Linked DNA regions of Homo sapiens: region 1 is linked to region 2. The links come from fine-mapping of genetic effects on gene expression. Tissue or cell type: whole blood. Region 2 holds a variant in brackets; the other region holds the start of a gene. All regions are shown on one strand. Distances are from middle to middle.

The links. PIP is the estimated chance that this variant, and not a neighbour inherited with it, causes the effect.
Region 1: TRMT6 starts here. The variant in region 2 is fine-mapped to the expression of TRMT6 in whole blood (INTERVAL, PIP above 0.99). The same link has a PIP of 0.9 or more in neutrophils.

Annotation. Positions count from the first base shown.
Region 1 is chr20:5,949,327-5,951,981 of GRCh38, reverse strand. TRMT6 (tRNA methyltransferase 6 non-catalytic subunit) reads left to right here and starts at 1,449. Exons shown (of 11, transcript NM_015939.5): 1 at 1,449-1,704. The coding sequence starts at 1,577. It overlaps MCM8 (minichromosome maintenance 8 homologous recombination repair factor), which reads right to left and starts at 1,330. Exons shown (of 19, transcript NM_032485.6): 1 at 959-1,330. RefSeq lists an enhancer at 1,314-1,453.
Region 2 is chr20:5,871,137-5,873,981 of GRCh38, reverse strand. No RefSeq gene overlaps it. Among named protein-coding and RNA genes, the nearest start is that of CHGB, 39 kb to the left of the region's middle. The variant T/C (reference allele first, on the strand shown) is at 1,685.

The DNA of each region.
Region 1 (2,655 bases), 78 kb before region 2:
CCAAAACTGTAAGGAAAATAGTGCTCTTAAAAATGTATTAATAAAAAGGGAAAAATTAATGTATTCTAGGTTCAAGAGTAGCAAACAGGCTTGCAAAGTTGTACAGCTATGATACAAGACCCAAATATTCTGCAGTTAAGTTTCTAATCTCTATCGCTTTTTAAGGTATACCATAATAGTTTAATAACTATTAAATATGGTTTACGTATACTAGACGCTCACAGGTTAAAAATAAGGACAGGTACTGTACCTGTTTACAAGTCCCCATTACAGAAATGAAAATAGGACAGGTAATTAACTCTATGAAAACTTATTTGCAGTATTTGAGACTTCTTATTATAGGGCAGGACAGGATGAACATAATTCTGGCCTGTGAGACACTAGGGATACATCATCATAGCTTCTTACATACAGTCAATCCTGCAGTGTCACATCCATTTTTTGTGCAGTTTTTCTGTAAATCCAAAACTGTTCTTATAAAATACACGTCTACTTAAAAATGATTCATATCCTAAGTATACAAGTAAATAAAGATATACCTGTACGCTGCAGTGCAATTCATTATCAAATACTCTACCCAAATCCTTACTTAAAAGGGGTTTAGTTAATAAAACAAGATAGTAACTAGAAAGTTCACGATTTAACGGCATGACAGGGCTCCAATAATTAGGCATTACACATTATGAAACTGATGCTCAAAGAAATTAAGCAAACCGATCAAGATCAAAGTTGTTTGTCGACAGTACAGAGATAAAACTTTCAGCCTCCCAAGCTGAGGCGCTCCTTCAACAACGCTGCGTGCCATACCCTTCTCAAACGAGACAATATGCTGAGAACAGTAACAAATTCAAAAAAACGTTAAGAAGTAGGACTGGAGAAAGAGTAAAAAGAAACAGTTGGGTACCTGTGCTTCTTCAAATACTACTTTATTTACATCTCCTAAGGCTAAAGTTCTTACTTGCTTGGGACAGAGGTCCCAAAGCTCTCCTAGTTCACAACTGGGCCGGCTCCAGGATACGCGCAGATCTGTCCGGCCGGATTCTCCCTCCCTCCCTCCCGTAGAGAAGCACCACGGGGCTAAGAGTCTCCGGGATCTTAGCTCCTCAGGCGACTCCTGCCAAGTCCGCAGTTCTCTTCAGCCGCAGCTTTCCTGTCGTCCCCGCGCGGTGCTGAACCCCATCTGTCTCAACGGCTCGGGAAACTCAGTTTCCCCACCGCAGCTTCCAGAAGGTGTCTGTAGCGCACAGCGCCGCAAAAATGCCTCAAGCGAAAATCAGGTCTTCCCCTAAATTCTTTTTTGGCGCTTCAGTGATCCAACTTCCGCTCAAAGAAGCGGCAAGACGAGAGGGGCGGGGCGGAGTGCAGCCAATCAAGGAGTTTGGCCAGACGGAAGCCGAGAGGCTTCCGGAAGCGGTCTTGAGGTCTGGGCCGGAAAGCGGAAGCGGCGTGCAACACGTGGGGGCGGTGCCGGTCGGAGGGCTCCTAGTGCGCCAGGTTGTGGGAAGTGAGGCTGGCGGTGGCGACAACCGAGGAGGAGGGGCGGGACGCCGTGGAGCACGGCGACCGGCTGAGCGTCATGGAGGGCTCAGGGGAGCAGCCGGGCCCACAACCACAGCATCCCGGAGACCACCGCATCCGCGACGGCGACTTCGTGGTGCTGAAACGTGAAGATGTGTTTAAAGCAGTACAAGTCCAGCGGAGAAAGTAAGTCAGATCGCTGATTTTAGGGGTCTCCCGCCCCCACCTTGTAGATACCCCCTCCCTCCAGGTTTCTCCACAGAATTCTTCCGCCAGGGTGCCATTCTTGGCTCTCTCGGTCCCCATTCCCCGCCCTCGTTGTCTCCTCGGGTCTTTCTGTCACAGAAGGCTTTTCCACCAGGATCCCGTCTTCGAACCTCATAATCTCCCTTAACCCTCCTGTTTTTCCCGGAGCCCCCTCCATGATTTCATATCTGGCCGTCCACCTTCAGCATCCTTTTCAGTCTTTCCACAGAGTTCCTTCCCCAGAATTCCATTCTTGGCCCTAGGGTGCCAATGCCTCCCTCTCCACACCCTAATCACCTGTCCTGAAGTTCTTTCCCTAGGACCTTGGGATCTTCACTGTCTTTCCAGAGACACCCCCTCCTTTCTTCACTTTAGGATCTCATCCTTGTCTCCAGAGTCTCCTTCAGGTTCCCCCTTTTTTTCCACCATAGATCCTCCTTCTTCCCTAATCCCCCAGTCAGGATCTATCCCACAAAAAATGAAACGTCTCCTACCTAGTCTGGCTTTCTATCCTCTTCTCTACCCAAGCAGGATACACAGAATAGATGAAGGAGACAATTCACCACAGAGTGTGGAATCACTTTGAGTTTCCCTCGTTTTACTCACCAAAGGATTCAACGCTGGGAAAATTGCTAAAAAGCAATTTGCTCAAGGCCTCAGAACTCCAAATTAGGTTTGGTTTGTGCACCTGCTGGCTAGTATCGCTCTGTTTTATAGAAGTAAAGAAGTGGGATTTTGATAACTTTCTGGAAGGGCTGGTGAGGTTGTTAAGTCCTAAGAGCTTATTAATGGTGAAAATTTATTGGGATATTTGGATTAATTTATCTGAGAAATACAACCACAGTGTTTTTGTTTTTGAGACGGAGTCTTGCTTTGTCACCCAGGCTTTAG
Region 2 (2,845 bases):
GCTTGGTCTTTCTGGTCACCAGCCTCCACCTAGGAATCCACCAAGAGTTGCCTCAATAGAACAAAAGACCCTCCCATCCCCCAGGAAATTCCATGGTATTAGGAGCTCTGTGTCAGGACCTGGGCTTAAAGACCAAATATTACACTGCACTCCAGCCTGGGCGACAGAGTGAGACTCCATCTAAAAAAAAAAAAAAAAAAAAAAAAAAAAGACCAAATATTAGAACAAAAGATGCACTTGGCATGTCTTTTGCTCAGGACTTTACAATGGTTTTAGCAGCTCTGTGCGAGAAACTAGAGCCAGAGACAAATATGTATCTTTTATTACATCATGATATTGTAACCTGCCTCTCTTTTTAAGTATAATTACCTCAAGTATTTCCTCTGCATCTATTAAGCACCACAATAGATGTTGTATTTTTTGCCTCAGCTATCAAATATGAGTTAAGAAACTCATAAGGAGAAGAATAGTCTATTATATTTTCTTTTCTTTTTATCCCTTCTGTTGTTCTTTCTTTTCTGAACTTCCAGTCTTCTTTTGGCATTTCTTTTCTGTTTGGAGAGCTTCCTTTAGGCATTCTTTAAGGGTAGGACTGCTGGCCACACATTGTCTTATTTCTCCTTCATTCTTAAAATACAGTTTCACTGTATGTAGAATTCATGGTTGACAGTTCTTCTCTTTCAGCACTTGAAAAATGTTGAGCCACTTCATTCTGGCCTCCCTGGTTTCAGATGAAAAATCTGTTCTCATTCAAATTGGTATTTGCCTATAGATAATGCATTCCTCCTTGGTTGCTCTTAAGATTTTTTTCTTTCATCTTCAGAAGTTTAATTATAATGTGTTTTGGTGAGGATTTCTTTTGATCAGTCCTATTTCGGGTTCACTTAGCTTTGTGAATCTGTAGGTTTCTGTCTTTCACCAAATTTGGGAAGTTTTCAGCCCTTATGTTTTGAATACTTGTTTAGCCCTCAAATCTTTCTGGAGTCTTTCTGGGGCTCTGAATGTTAGGTCTTCTGTTATTGTCTCGTAGTTCCTTCCTTCCCTCCCATCCTCTACCTCATCCGTCTTCTCTCTGTTGATCAAATTGAATAAATTCAGTGGAATTGTCCTCAAGGTCAGTGACTTTATCTTTTGTCATCTCCACGCTACCGCTGAGCCCACCTGGTGAGTTTTTAAATTTTGTTGCTGCATGTTTCAATTCTGTGATTTCCATTTGGTTCTTTTTGTAACTTCTATTTATTTGCTGAGGTTTTCTATTTTTTCATGTTTCAAAGGATTTTATAACTGCTTACTGAAACTACATTATGGGAGTTGCTTTAAAATCTTTGCAGATAGTTCCACCATCTGATTCATCTCACTATCAATGTCAGCTGATTGCCTTTTCTCGCTCCAGTTGTGATTTTCCTGGTTCTTGGTATGACAAGTCATTTTCAATTGTATCCTGGACATTCTGCACATTATGTTACGAGACTCTTGATTCTGTATAAATCTTCTATTTTAGCAGGCAACCGCCCTGTTTAGGTTTATGGTGTCAGTTTTGCCTACTTTTGTGGGCTATAGTTTTAACGACAGTTGTGTTTTCTGAGCCTTCGCAGTGCTATTCTGGTCTGCTTTGCTCTTGGGGCTCTGCTTAAGCTCCTACTGGGTTGCTACATATGGTGCCTACAGAGGCAGAAGGCACTGC[T/C]CTAGGTTGACTGGTGTCATTATGTGGGTGTGGGGGATGCCCTAGATCGCCTTCTGCCTCTGCGTGAATGGCTGAAAGACACCAGACCTGCTGGCACTGCTTGTGCAAGTGAAGGAGCCTACCTGCTGTCACCTGGTGTGGAGCAGTAGATGACCTGGCCTGCATGGGTTTCACTGTTACCACTAATACGGGCAGATTGAGCCCCCTGCTGCTGGTGGAGATGGGATGTGAAGTGGGTTGGCCCGTTTGGATTCTTCTGTTGCCACTGCTGCAGGGATACTGGCCTGCTGCTGTCTGTGGCTGTGGAGTAGGGGAGTGGTTGGAAGCTCATTTCTGCTGGTGCTAGTGCTGTGAGCAGATTGGGTCCACCACTGCCACTGGGTGTGGCTCTCCTCACTGAGTTCTCCTTTCCTGGTCCCTTAGCCAGAGGGAGAAGACCCCTTCCCCCTTCCCCCTTCTTCCCCCTTCCTCCCCCTTCCCCCTTCCCCCTTCTTCCCCCTTCCCCCTTCCCCCTTCTTCCCCCTTCCCCCTTCCCCCTTCTTCCCCCTTCCCCCTTCTTCCCCCTTCCCTCCCCTCCCTTCCCTCTCTTTCTCTCTCCTATGCCTGTCTGTGGTTTCAGGCTGGCTGGTGTCCAGGATATATGGAAGATAAAGAAAATCCAGAAAACCAACTGTTGGGTTATTCTTCAAGTCCTGAGTCCCTAGTCCATCCATCTTCTTTCTGCCATTCAGAGTCCTTTTATGATTGCTGAATTCTTTCCGTGGTACTTGGTTGTGTTTAACAAGAAGCCAGAAAAAGTAAGTCTATAACATCTTCTCCTGAAACTGGAAGTTGCCTCAGGATTTTTACCACATGCTTGTTGGTTTAAGCCAGGGGTTCCCAACCTAGGTCTTCCAAATTCCAGCAGCTTCTTGTGTTTTGGTTGTGGGTCTAGAAGATGGTACCAAAGGGGAGAGGAAAAGCTGAACAGAAGTAAACCATGATTAAATCAAGTTTTTAAAAGTGCATGAATATGTGTGTGTGCACAATTTTCTTAAAATAATGAAGACCTTTAAATATATGGTGAAAAAGAGAGAGGAAAAAGGAGAGGGCTTGAGGATATGAGATAGTGGGAAAATAATGTGAAAATCAGGGCAGGGTTAGACATTTTTGCATACCGGG